Homo sapiens: one gene and its partner. The protein of the gene in region 2 purifies or fractionates together with the protein of the main gene of each other region. This does not show direct contact. Each region holds a gene or a part of one and is shown on either strand. Other genes may lie near its edges.

Evidence for each region.
Region 1: the proteins of UCK2 (region 2) and VARS2 purify together in Homo sapiens (affinity purification with mass spectrometry; 2 studies listed by BioGRID and IntAct, with this or other methods). This does not show direct contact.

Annotation. Positions count from the first base shown.
Region 1 is NC_000006.12:30,917,234-30,924,237, forward strand, and holds part of VARS2 (valine--tRNA ligase, mitochondrial isoform 2 precursor), read left to right. Parts: intron 1-461; coding exon 462-573; intron 574-1,593; coding exon 1,594-1,682; intron 1,683-2,524; coding exon 2,525-2,615; intron 2,616-2,855; coding exon 2,856-2,983; intron 2,984-3,099; coding exon 3,100-3,203; intron 3,204-3,434; coding exon 3,435-3,516; intron 3,517-3,831; coding exon 3,832-3,908; intron 3,909-3,996; coding exon 3,997-4,072; intron 4,073-4,355; coding exon 4,356-4,458; intron 4,459-4,691; coding exon 4,692-4,762; intron 4,763-4,882; coding exon 4,883-5,008; intron 5,009-5,216; coding exon 5,217-5,321; intron 5,322-5,472; coding exon 5,473-5,541; intron 5,542-5,664; coding exon 5,665-5,743; intron 5,744-5,870; coding exon 5,871-5,998; intron 5,999-6,119; coding exon 6,120-6,272; intron 6,273-7,004. UniProt on the Homo sapiens protein: Catalyzes the attachment of valine to tRNA(Val) in a two-step reaction: valine is first activated by ATP to form Val-AMP and then transferred to the acceptor end of tRNA(Val).
Region 2 is NC_000001.11:165,823,782-165,830,673, forward strand, and holds the start of UCK2 (uridine-cytidine kinase 2), read left to right. Parts: upstream 1-3,832; 5' UTR 3,833-4,052; coding exon 4,053-4,151; intron 4,152-6,892. UniProt on the Homo sapiens protein: Phosphorylates uridine and cytidine to uridine monophosphate and cytidine monophosphate. Does not phosphorylate deoxyribonucleosides or purine ribonucleosides. Can use ATP or GTP as a phosphate donor.

The sequences.
Region 1 (7,004 bases), on a different chromosome or scaffold from region 2:
AGAGAGGGAAGCAGGTTTGTGAGAGCTCTGAGGCAGAGTGGTCAATGATTAAGAGCTCAGACTCTGGAGCCAGGGTGCCTGGATTCAAATCTGATGCCTGCCTGTTACAGCTGTGTGGCTTTTGGCAGGCCGTTTAGTCTCTTTAAGCCTCAGCTTCCTCAGTCTGTAAATTAGAGATGATGGAATGCTTGCATCGTGGGGGTGTTGTAAAAATTAAATGAGAATTCACATAGGTGCTTGGCAAGATACCTGGCCATGGCTTAAGTGCTCAGTGAATATTTATTAGAAGTGTGACTGCACGAGCATTGGGTGAGGGCAGAGGGAGGTAGCTCCCGAATCCTCCAAATGGCTTTTAGATGGATTGCAGGGAGGCTGGGCAGATGGATGAGTGGCAGAGTGAAGCCTGGGCATGAGCCTTGCAGAAAGGCTGCCCTCTGACCCAGCTTTCTCGGTGCCTCCAGGTGGAGAACCGGCCCCTGCCTGGCCACACACAGCTTCGACTGCCTGGCTGCCCCACCCCCGTGTCTTTTGGCCTCCTATTTTCTGTTGCCTTCCCCGTGGATGGAGAGCCTGGTGAGCATAGTACTCTGCAGGGTCACCCGTTTACCTCCATTTTTCCTGTTTTCTGAAGCCCATGTTGGGCTGCTAGGAACCCATCAGTCCATCTCTCACATGTACCTTGGTAGTGTTCACCTCAGCGTGGGCACTTACCCAGGGTCTTCTGGGGGATGTACAAAAAGTGCATGTGGTCACTGCCCTTTGAGAGTGTGGTGTGATTCTTCAGGAGTGCGCTACCCAGGAAAGAGATCAGTTCTAAGGTATGTTTTGTTTTGTTTGTTTGTTTGTTTGTTTTGAGACAGAGTCTCACTCTGTCACCCAGGCTGCAGTGCAATGGCACGATCTCGGCTCCTGCAACCTCTGCTTCCCAGGTTCAAGCGATTCTCCTGTCTCAGCCTCCTGAGTAGCTGGGATTACAGGCGCGTGCCACCAGGCCTGGCTAATTTTTGTATTTTTAGTAGAGACGGGGTTTCACCATGTTGGTCAGGTTGGTCTCGAACTCCTGACCTCGTGATCTGCCCGCCTTGGCCTCCCAAAGTGCTGGGATTACGGGCGTGAGCCACTGCACCTGGCCTCTAAGGTGTGGTTTTTACGGTAAATGTTCTGAAGAGCTCAGAGAAAGGGAAGACAGATGAGCTGGAATTGTCAGTGGAAGCTTCTTGTAGGAGCTGGTGCTCCCCCTGAGGAATGTACAGCATTTGTGATTAGGACACTGAGAATCCCCAGTGTCCTCTGGGCACCCAGCAAGAATTCTATTATAGTTGCTTTAATTAATGCTGCCCCCATTTCTTCCATGCAAATTATCAGGGAATTCTTTAGCACCAGAGACCCTCTCAGACCTCTGGTCATCAGCTTATGGGAAACCCTGGGTTCCTATAAACACTGCTCCTACTTTTTTCTAGTCACTCCTGGGGGCCTCTTCCACCTTGACTACTCCCTGCCCCTTCCCCTTTCCAGTTCTACTGCCTTTAGCTATGTTGGCAGTGAGAGGTGAGGATGATGACCAGCTGTAAGTGTTTAAATGTTTATCTTCAGATGCAGAGGTTGTGGTAGGAACCACAAGGCCAGAGACGCTGCCTGGAGATGTGGCTGTGGCCGTTCATCCAGACGACTCGCGATACACAGTAATACCCAGTGCGCTCCTGCACTCTGGCCCGCCCCGCCAATGGCCTTCTCTTCTCTTGGGTTTTAAATGGTGGCTCTTTCTCTCTTGCTTCTACTTCCTTTTCCTGAGACTTCTCTCAGTGGTTCTGATTGGACTCCCTCCTCCTCTTATAGTTTTTCTGTAGCTCAGGGGTTGACAAACTGGCCCATGGTCCTAATCCAGCTTGCGGCCTTTTTTTTTGAGACAGAGTCTCGCTCTGTCACCAAGGCTGGAGGGCAGTGGTGTGATCTTGGCTCACTGCAACCTCCACCTCCTGGGTTCAAGCAATTCTCCTGCCTCAGCCTCCTGAGTAGCTGGGAGCGTGGCACCATGCCCGGCACGTGCCACCACACCCAGCTAATTTTTTGTATTTTTACAAAAATTAGTAATTAATTTTTTTTAAGTAATGTAATTTTTAAGTAATGTTATTTAGTAGAGACGGAGTGTCACTGTGTTAGCCAGGATAGTCTCGATCTCCTGACCTCGTGATCTGCCCACCTCGGCCTCCCAAAGTGCTGGGATTACAGGCGTGAGCCGCCGCGCCTGGCTGCTTGCAGCCTTTATATTATCTATGGCTGCTATTATATACCCTCTCCAGCTCTGCTGCAGTGGCATAATAGAGTAATTGTGCTGAGAATGAATTTGTCTCTAGGCCCAAAAGCCTAAAATATCTACATTCTGGCCCCTTAAGAGTTTGCTGACCTTGCTCTAGCTTGCTACCTTCCACTTTCTACCTTCTTATTCCTGGGGTTCTCACGCCCCAGCCCAGACCCTTCCAACCCTCACAGGTGCCTGTCCTTGATCCCTCTCCCTTCCCTTCAGCATCTACACGGGCGACAGCTTCGTCACCCCTTGATGGGGCAGCCTCTTCCCCTCATCACAGACTATGCTGTTCAGCCACATGTGGGCACGGGTGAGTGGAAGTCAGGGGAGGGAGAGAAAGTTGGGGGTCCTGGAGGAGAGGGGAGGGAACCAGGAGGAAGAGGAAGGTGGGAGTGGGAGATCCTCATATAGGGTGGTCTGAGTGGGGAATGGGAGGGAGGCACAGACAGAGAAAGTCGCAGGGGCTGGGGCGGTGCAGGTGATGATGATACATCTGGAAAAGCAAAAGCCAAGGTCAGGTTCAGTACTCACCATGGCTGTGCTCCCCAAGGGGCAGTGAAGGTGACTCCAGCTCACAGTCCTGCCGATGCTGAGATGGGGGCCCGACATGGCTTGAGCCCCTTGAATGTCATTGCGGAGGATGGGACCATGACCTCCCTCTGCGGGGACTGGCTGCAGGTGGTACCACCCTATGTTACCCCATCCTTTGGGGGCTCTCTGTCCCCCTAATCCTCCTCCTAGTTTCTTATTTCTCTAGAGGCCTTCAGTCTTTACTCTTGCCGCTTTTTCTCCAGGGTCTTCACCGGTTTGTGGCCCGGGAAAAGATAATGTCTGTGCTGAGTGAATGGGGCCTGTTCCGGGGCCTCCAGAACCACCCCATGGTACTGCCCATCTGCAGGTAACCTCATTTTAACTCCTTTACTAAGGGCTACCCCAAAAGGGAATGTATGGAGCTTAAGGGTGACAATAGGATGGGCTCTGCACCCCTCCGTTAGAATACGAGCTCCGTGTCGGTTTTATTCGCTATTGTATCCTCAGTACCAAGGGCCTGGCATGGCATGGGGTCTTGTGCCCCTGGGAGAAGTCACAGGGCCGGAAGAGCAGTGGACTCACCCTGTCTCTCTTTCAGCCGTTCTGGGGATGTGATAGAATACCTGCTGAAGAACCAGTGGTTTGTCCGCTGCCAGGAAATGGGGGCCCGAGCTGCCAAGGTGAGGCTGCAGTGTAGGAAGGACTGGGGCCAGGGGTTGGGGGAGCTCCCTGAGAATTGGAATGAAGAAATGGGAAGCAGGAGACCTCCTGCCCTGAAGACCTCTCCAGCTGTGGTAACTGAGAGGATGTGTGGGATGGAGGCTGGGCGGCCCAGCAAGGGCTGGCTCATATCCTTACTCAAGCCCAGAATCTTGGCAAGAGGCTTGGGAGGTCCTTTCTGAGTTTTAAAATGACCTCAGAGGCCACTCGTCCTATCTGTGGAGGTGCGGCCGTGCAGGAAGGGCAACATTGTCTAAAGTCCCCTTTCTCTCCAGGCTGTGGAGTCGGGGGCCCTGGAGCTCAGTCCCTCCTTCCACCAGAAGAACTGGCAGCACTGGTTTTCCCATATTGGGTAAGGGTAGGGTAAGGGGAGCTCTTGTGGAGATGGGGAGGGGGGACTGACTGGTTATTCTAAGACTTCACGAATGTCCTCCCGGCAGGGACTGGTGTGTCTCCCGGCAGCTGTGGTGGGGCCATCAGATTCCAGCCTACCTGGTTGTAGAGGACCATGCGCAGGTGGGTAGGAAGAAGCACCCGGAGGGCCGAGTGTGGCACAGAGCACCTAGCCCAGGAGTCAGAGCTCCGCAGGGCCAAGTCCCGCTCCTGCCTGGTCATGTGCTTCATGCTCATAGTCATGTAACCTTCTGCGCGATCAAGGCTCCCTGAAGTGGCATTTCTTTATCTCACCCCTGGGGGAACCTGGCCACTCTAAGACCACATGAGGACGTGAAAACCAAGTGACATTTACACCTGTCAGCTGTTCTTCCTCACTCTCCCCAACCCCTTCCTACTTTTGCAGGGAGAAGAGGACTGTTGGGTGGTTGGGCGGTCAGAGGCTGAGGCCAGAGAGGTAGCAGCGGAACTGACAGGGAGGCCAGGGGCAGAGCTGACCCTGGAGAGGGGTGAGTGCCTGAGCTGGGGAGGGATGTACAGGGGAGCGGGGGCCTGGGCATCTGGGCCTTTGAGGGGAACAGATCCCAAGATACAGAAGGTAGGGTCAGGAAAGTTGGGAATGGAGCCAAAGGGGACAGCCCTGGTCTCTGGGGGTGGGGGTTGGCCTAGAATGGTGGCAGCAGTGGTCTGAGGTCCTAGAAGCCAAGGTTCCAACTGTCCCCATTCTTTTTCTGTTTCCCAGATCCTGATGTCCTAGACACATGGTTTTCTTCTGCCCTGTTCCCCTTTTCTGCCCTGGGCTGGCCCCAAGAGGTGAGGTGGGTTGAGAGGGCGAAAGTGAAGGGGAAACGATAAGGAAGGGATGGCTGGGCCCCCACAGAGGCTTGAGGGGGGCCTGGGGCCTGGGCCTCTTACTGCTCCTCTTCCCCCTAGACCCCAGACCTTGCTCGTTTCTACCCCCTGTCACTTTTGGAAACGGGCAGCGACCTTCTGCTGTTCTGGGTGGGCCGCATGGTCATGTTGGGGACCCAGCTCACAGGGCAGCTGCCCTTCAGCAAGGTAAGAGCCCTTCAGTGCCCTGCCGCTTTCTGTGACTCCAGTGTTCCCCAAACCTTGTCCTCCCTTCTAACCCCTAATGTGGTCCTTTCCACGTTGCTGATTCCTTTTTCCTAATTCACTTCCTACCCTACCCCCAAAAGTATGGAGGCCAGAGATCCCAAGGCACCTCCAAGGAAACCCCCCTCTGTTGACCCCTCCCTGCCCCCAGGTGCTTCTTCATCCCATGGTTCGGGACAGGCAGGGCCGGAAGATGAGCAAGTCCCTGGGGAATGTGCTGGACCCAAGAGACATCATCAGTGGGGTGGAGATGCAGGTGAGGACGAAGCACCCACTAGAGGGACAAGGTTTGCAGGGTTTGCAGGAGAGAGGAAGGCAGGCTGAGGGAGGAGTGAGGCCAGCAGGTGTGACCCTTATAGAGGCAGGGCCTTCGACCTGGGTCGTGAATTGCCCCCTTCCATCCCCAGGTGCTGCAGGAAAAGCTGAGAAGCGGAAATTTGGACCCTGCAGAGCTGGCCATTGTGGCTGCAGCACAGGTGAGTCATCGCTGCCTGCCCCCCACCAGCTCTAGCTCACCACCTCTGGCTTCCTCTGCAACCCAGGTCCTGGCCCTGCAGCCACAAAGGCATCTGCCACCCTTCTTCTTCCTCTGGTTGCAGAAAAAGGACTTTCCTCACGGGATCCCTGAGTGTGGGACAGATGCCCTGAGATTCACACTCTGCTCCCATGGAGTTCAGGGTAAGCCTGGGCGAGGGGTGTCGGGGTGAGCAGAGGGCAGCGGGCACCTGTGCAGGGGCAGGGCAGGGGCAGGACTTCTGGTGCTGCTGCCACCTACATGCAGACTACCTCGATTCTTCCCTTCCAGCGGGCGACTTGCACCTGTCAGTCTCTGAGGTCCAGAGCTGCCGACATTTCTGCAACAAGATCTGGAATGCTCTTCGCTTTATCCTCAATGCTTTAGGGGAGAAATTTGTGCCACAGCCTGCTGAGGAGGTAAGAGAAAACAGAGGTGCTTGGGAGTAGGGTAGTCAGGTGTCAGAGGGCCAAGGTGGCATCTGGAAGGAAAGGAGGCAGGGGAGGGGGAGTCAGGCCATCCTGCCCCCTCTGCCTGCAGCTGTCTCCCTCCTCCCCGATGGATGCCTGGATCCTGAGCCGCCTTGCCCTGGCTGCCCAGGAGTGTGAGCGGGGCTTCCTCACCCGAGAGCTCTCGCTCGTCACTCATGCCCTGCACCACTTCTGGCTTCACAACCTCTGTGACGTCTACCTGGTGAGTGAGGCTGGGGGAGGCTTGGTATTCCCATGCCTGCTTCTAATTCCTCTGGAAATTTCCAAGGCAGAGAGCTCTGGAGTTAATAAGTTCCCAATTGTCCCCTCAGTTAGGAGAGGAGAGGAGACGAGGGAGTCTCAGTTCCCCTCTTCCTGGGACTGGTTTTGGCAGTGCAGCCCAGGCACTGTTGCCTGCCTGTCACCTGGGGAGAGGAGGAGGAGGGAGACTTCTAGAAATGTCTGACAAGTCGGTGTCAGAAGGCAGAGGGGAATTTTTTCAGTCCCTGTAGTTGCTGAGTTTGGCCCATGGGCAGGCTGCGTGCTGAGAGAGGCCTGGGAGGGACTAGCAGCGGTCTTTAGACCAGGGGTTCTCACGCTGTCCTACGTCCAAAGCACCTGGAGGGCTTGTTGACGGTGGATCCCCCCCGCTCCACTGCCACCCCAGAGTGGCTCCTTTAGCAGGTTGGGGTGGGGGTGGGTGGTGTAATGAATATTCATTTCTTGTCCCAAGTGGTGCTGCTGCTGCTGGCTGTGGACCACTGCCCTAGCTCAGCCTTTTAAAAACCTCTGTCCCCTGTTGATAAGCAAAAAACTCAATGATTTTTTTCCCTAAACTACATGTTTCCCTGGAAATCCTGTCCCTGTGTACTGCAGAGAATTGCTGTCCTGGAGTCCCCTTCTTTGTGCTGAGTGTGTCCTGGGACTGTGGATCATATCAGAAGTGCTAAGTGCT
Region 2 (6,892 bases):
TCATCCAGCCATCTTTTCAGAACAGTACTTATGATCTGACAAAGCAACTGCTGATTGATAAAAGGTGGAAAGTAATTAGAAAGGTAATACAGAGAACGATAATACTTTGGATACATGATGAAGTGTGATAACATCTATTTTTCTGGCTGGGGAATGAGATAAACAAATAGAGAACTGATCATGGTGCATGAAGCACCTAGAGAAAGAACATTTCAGTTGGGTGCAAAATGTAACGTTCCTTGTCTAGTTCAGAACTATGGCTACTCAAGGGGAGAAGGCAGGCAGACAAAGGACTGTCAACAGCAATGTCTCTTATTGTTCTTTGGCTACAGCTGCACTTGCATACTCATGCTGACTTCGTGCCCAAATGTTAACTAGGCCAGAACTTGATCAGACTGAAATCTGTAAAAGAAAAAAAAATCATCACAGATACCAAGAAAATGTATTTCCTTGAATCTGTTCTAACTCTGAATTTTGTTAAAAAATTAGATTTTTTTTTTTTTTTAGTGGGAGGAAAAGGAGGACAGCTCAAAACCACTTAATTCAGAATCTGCAGTGTAATTGTTATGGTAGGCTCAAATGTGATTTGAACATCCCTAGCTATGGGATTTGGTGACCAAGCTCCCAAGAGAGGATGACACAGCACAGGGAATAGCACAGGCAGCTTGCCTTGCTTTGTAGGGGGCAGAGATGTGAAAGTCCTTGTTGAGGTCAGTGGAGCTGAGAGTACTCTTCATAATTTAAATGGACACGGGTAATTTCCTTACATGTAGGCAAGCCAGCCCTAGGGATAGGAAGGAGAAAGAAAAACAGGGAGTACAGAATGCAGATGGCTGCCCTCTGCTAATTAGGCCTTACCTTTATATAGAATGCTTTTGATTTTTTCAGACACTTTCAGGTATATTAACTCATGCACAGAGGTCAAATATTATTATTATTAAACAAAGTGCAGAGAAGTATTGAGAATTAGCTCAGTTAATGAATTAGCTCAACTAGGTAATAGATGCATTAAGATTAGATGGGGACAGTCACTCTGGAATGCCAGGAAAACAAAACATTCAGAAATAAGTATAGTAACCACATTAATACAATCAAGGGAACAAGCCTTTCCTTCCAAAGTGACGGAAATTAAGTTTACTTGTTGGTGTCCTTACTTCCATATTCATTCATTTGTTCATTCATTTATCATGTATTAAATGCTTCCTACTTGCTTATCATTCTGCTCAGTGGGCCTGGGGGATGTAGAAATGAGACATTATCTCTTTTCATTTGTTGAGGCCCTACAAGGTGCCAGAACCGTTCCAGGCGTTGGGGATATAGTAATTAAAAACAAAACAAAACAAACCAAACAAGAAATGTATAAGCCAGTGTGGAGTAAGTCAATTAAAATTAACAAAGCAAAAGGAAGTAAGTCCTATAATAAAAATGCCTTGATGGATAGAGGGATGGGTAGATGACCAGTTATGTTTTAAAGCAAGTATATATATAGTACGATGTTAGTGATAGAGTCTAGGTGGTGGGTATACTGGTGTTTGCTGTAAAATCTTTCAACTGTGCTCGAAAATTTTTATGATAAAATATTATGGAATAAACACTATAGGAATGACAAGGAAGATGCAGATTTGAGAAAAGTTTATGAAAGACATGGCATTCTTTTTTTTTTTTTAAGAGACAAGTCGATAGAGGAGTGCAATGGCATGATCACAGCTGCAACCTCGAACTCCTGGGCTCAAGTGATCCTCCTGCCTCAGCCTCTGGTGTAGCTGGGACTACAGGTGTGCACTACCATGCCCAGTTAATTTTTGTACTTTTTGTGGAGATGGGGGTCTCATTATGTTGCCCAGGCTGGTCTCAAACTCCTAGCCTCAAGTGATCCTCACTCTTCTGCCTCCCAAAATGTTGGGATTACAGGCATGAGCCACCCCACTGGCCTTTGGCATTCCTTTATCCTCCTCCTCTTCTCCTTAACTACCTAATATCCCCATGCTAACCCTTAGCTGTAGGTTCAACTTCCAAATTCCAATGGGCTATAAAGAGTTCTACAAAAGTCCATGATGACTAATAAATCTATCTAGTAGAGAAAAGACCTTTTGGAGAAGAGGCTAACTCTAGGACCACCTAAAACTCACCCACTCCATAGCTATTTGGTAAGGCACCCCTTTAGGAAACTTCACCCAAATGCCTGCTTCTGGGTACCAGGTAGTGGCCACTCTCCCCATCTTTGTCTCCTGTCTGAGCTGCTACCGAGTTTGATGTTAGATGGTGACATAAAATACAGTAATTCCTAGATATATGCGGAGGGACTGGTCCCAGGACAGCCTACATGTAACCAAATCCACACATGAAGTCCCACAGTCAGTCCTGAGGAAACTGCACAAATATTGTGTTTTCCATCTGCCCTTGGTTTAAAAAAAAAGCTGCATAAAAGTGAACCTCACAGTTTGAACCAGTGTTGTTCAAGTGTCAACTTTAATTTAAAAGTGAAAAAAGTTTGTTTTCTCTGGTATCCTTTTTTTTGTTTTGTTTTGTTTTTGTTTTTGTTTTTTGACACAGGCTCTGGCTCTGCTGACCAGGCTGGAGTGCAGTGGGGAGATCATGGCTCACTGCAGCCTCGATTTCCCTGGCTTGAGAGAAAATTATTTTTTTCAAAATAATCTTCAATTTAAGGTAATTTACTAAGTTTCAAAAGATAATGCTATTGACGTAAATTCTGTTTTAGATTGTAGGCCCCATCAGCTCATTGATACTAGTCCCAAGTTCACAGGAGAAGAGACTGGAAGTTACTAGGCTAGTCCTGCCTCTCTCAGGTGTGTCCCAGCAAAACTTTTCTTTCCAGTTTCAGCGCTTTAGAAACCTTTTCTCTTCAAACACTAATACAGGGCCTAGACTGTACCAGCACTGTTCTGAGAACTTTACATACACTAATTCATTTAATTCTCACAAAAATCCTGGGATGTAATTGCCATTATTATTCCCATTTAACAGATAAGAACACTGAAGCACAGAGAGATTAAGTAACTTGCTCAGGGACCTGGATGTGAATGCAGAAATCTGGCTCCAGAGGTGGAGTCTGAAACTGCCTTTCTAAGTGACTGATTGCCAATCTCTGGAAAACCGTTCAATTGAAGATATTAATGGATCAAAATGTCAGTATGTTTTCAGATACCCTAACTCCATAGGAAGCTCAGTGTATGGGATGAGATACTGTGGTTTAGAAGGGAATTGCTTTTCCAACGGAGGGCACCCTTCAGATAAGCCCCTCAAATTGCCCTTCACTAGAGAGTCGCACGAGGACAGGCCTGCTAAAAAGGATGGCGCTGGGGGGTTTCCAAGACAGGAAATATCTAAAGCCAGCGGCTGACATATTATCTTGGCGAACGGGAGAAGGGAAAAAGAACCCTCATTTTTTGGAAACACAAGTTTTTAGCCTGGATAATGGGTAAATGACATTAACTCTTCGTTCCACACTAATCTTTCAAGCTTGTTCAAATTTTGCTTCTCAAACCTGGGCCATTCCTTCTTATCTAATCTGCCTATTATTTCCTTCAAGCTTTTTATCCCTTCTGAAAATAGGTGGTAGCATACCAAATTAAAATACAGAACAGCCTGTTTCTTTCCCCCAGGGTCCACTAGGGCGCGTCGGAGAAAGGGTTAACCGGGCGGGTGGGAGGGAAGGTCGGGCTCACACCTTTCGCAGAGACCTCGGGCGGCGGCGGGGCCCGGGAGGGGCGGAGGCTGGGGCCAGACGCCTCGCCGCCTCCGCCTCGGCGAATAGCAGCGCGCTGCCCGCCCGGATTGGAGCAGCAGCATCACGCTGACCTCTGCCTGGGATGTAAACCGGACCAGCCGCTGCGGGCAAAGGAAGGCTCTTGGCTCCTTCGGGAAACCCAGCCCCGTCACCGGGCTCCGAGCGGCTCGCAGGCGAGCGACAGCGGCCTCAGCCCCGGCAGCGCCCAGCGGCGGCTGCGGAAAGCGGAGGGAGTCCGACGCGGGCGCGGGCGGGGAGCGTGCGTCCGTTCGCACAGGCAGCGGGAGGAGGGGCGGCGCGAACCATGGCCGGGGACAGCGAGCAGACCCTGCAGAACCACCAGCAGCCCAACGGCGGCGAGCCCTTCCTTATAGGCGTCAGCGGGGGAACAGCTAGCGGCAAGGTACGGCGGGGCCCGGAGCCGCGCTCCCTTCCCGGCTTCTGTCCCTGGGCGGCGCATGTGGCCGGCGGCCGCGGGCCGTGTCAGTTGCGGCAGCCACCGCGTGGCCCGCGCGCCTCCGCTCCCGGCCGCGCTCCAGCGCCGAGTGCGCCCCGCGCGGCCTGGGGGCGCTGCGGCGGGGGCAGGCGAAGACTCGGGCCTTGGGGGTTCCGGGGGTACGCGGCCACGATCGCAGGGCGGGAGTGCTCCTCCGGCTTTTCTCCCCCCGCGTTAATAACTCGTGGCCGGGGTCCTATGGGGGAAGGGCAGGGAAGCGGATGCTTATTGTTTTGCAACTCCAGTGTCGGGGGAGAGGGCTTTCCGCAGGATCCCCCACTAACCCCCGATGGACTCCCTCAAGCCCCGGTCTGGCACAGACGTGCTCGCCCCGCGGCGCAGCCTGGTGCCGAGGGCGGAGCGAGCCGGGAAGCGCGGCCGAGAGGGCGAGGGTGGCGGGAACGCGCGAGGCGGCATCCCGGGGAAGGGGAGCCCAGTGTGGGGCTGCACGCAAGGGCTGGGGATTACAGGGGTTTCCGGGTAAAAGTCTGAGAGCCAAATAGGTGCCGTGACATCAATGAAACGATAATAGTAGGGGCTTCTGTTTTTTAAGGTTATAAGAGGAAACGTGGTCGGCTTCAATGAGAAAGTTGTACTGGCTCCAAGCTCTTCGGTGTCCAGGACGTACGCGTCTTGGATCCACGGAAGGGGGTCATCGTATGGGTGTCTGACCCTCTTAGGAGCCTGTTTCCTTTGTTTTATCCGCAAGGCAAGGAGAGACAAGGGAAATGACTTCCTAGCTTTACCCGGGGTTTTTTCTGCAGGTGGAGAAGGGTGGAGTCCTCCCAGATGGTTCTTTCTTTGCTCCCCTAACAGCCTTTAAGATGTGGCTACTTGTTTTTCCCACCGTTTAACACCCTCCAACTTCATTTGGAGCACGGGTTCCTCAAGGGATCCTGAGAGCTGGGTGCTGGGTGCTGGTTTGGAGAGGCAGGATGATGCTTCTCCCGGCTGGGGAGAGCAGAGCAGGAAGGCTGGTTGGCGCCATGAGGAAAGAGCCACGAGGTTTTAGCTCCCGAACCGACTCGTCAGTAGCCCCTCCTCCATGTTGGTTTTACATTTTTCCCTCCTGGTCTGGACTACTTTAGCGCAAGGAGCCCAGCCAGACACGGCGGCTGGCGCTGCTGGACTTCTTTATTGATGAAGTTGATCTCGTCCGTAGCTCCCGGGGTTAGGAATCGGCCTGCTTTAGGTCCTGAAGTTTCTGTTCTGTGTGCTCCCTGGTTGAAGGCTTTTAAAAAAATTTGTAATTTTTGAGTATGTTCTTTACTATGACTTATACTAGTAATTCAAAGCAAAACCAGAATGCTAGCCCTTCAGGAAGCTTTACCTGTTCTTTTAGAATTATTCTTGCTCTTCTGGCATATTCCTGTTGGATTGGGAGCATTTTTTGTTGTTGTTGTTCATGGCTGTTTTCCCAGCCCTCCTAGCACAATGCCTGCCTGGCATGTAGTGGGGTCCAAATTTTAAGCTGAAGTCCAGTCCTCCTAAAGTGGGGAGGAGGCTTAAACTTGCATATGAGCTTTTAGAAACAAAATGATCTTGGTAATCATCTGAATAATTTAGTTACCACGAGGGTGAAAACTGCGACCCTAAAAGGTGAATAACTCTGTTATTGTTCTTCTTGTGTGTTTCTCAGTCGTCACCTGTTCTAACTTGATAATCAAGCTTTTGGTGTTACTTGGGTAAAGTGAGGGATGGGATAGTGGTGAGCCAATGTGGGAGTAGCTAATTCTCTGCTATTTTTATCCAGGAGGAAGAGTGTAGAAACTCTCAAGAAAGGAAGGGTCCGTTTTTCTGCAGTTTTCAAAGCATGTTGTACATTTTTATTTATTAATTTAATTTTTGAGACAAGGTCTCGCATTTCCACCTAGCCCAGAGTAAGTGGCACTGTCACAGCTCACTGCAGCCTCAGCCTCAACCTGGAGTAACTGGGAGTACAGGCTGGCACTATCATGACTGGCTAATTTTTTTGTTTGTTTGATTTGTTTTGTTTTTGAGACAGGGTCTCACTCTTTTGCCCAGGCTGGAGTGCCGTGGTGAGATCTTGGCTTACTGTACCCTCCACCTGTTGGGCTCAAGTGATCCTCCCACTTCAGCCTCCAGAGTAGCTGAGACTACAGGCTTGCACCATCATGCCCGACTAATTTTTTTTTTTTTGTAGAGAAGGGGTTTTGCCATGTTGCCAGGCTGATCTCAAATGCCTAGACTTAAGTGATCCGCCCGCCTCTGCCTCCCAAAGTGCTGGGATTACAGGTGTGAGCCACTACCTGGGCTGGCTTTTTAATCTTTATTTTTTTTATTATTTTTTTTTTTTGAGACAGAGTCTTGCTCTGTTGCCCAGGCTGGAGTGCAGTGGCATGATCTCGGCTCACTGCAAGCTCCGCCTCCCGGGTTCATGCCATTCTTCTGCCTCAGCCTCCCAAGTAGCTGGGACTACAGGTGCCCGCCACCACGCCTGGCCAATGTTTTTGTATTTTCAGTAAACACGGAGTTTCACTGTGTTAGCCAGGATGGTCTCAATCTCCTGACCTTGTGATCCGCCCGCCTCGGCCTCCCAAAGTGCTGGGATTACAGGTGTGCGCCACCACGCCGGCAATCTTTATTTTTTGTAGAGACTAGGTCACCATGTTGCCCAAGCTTGTTTG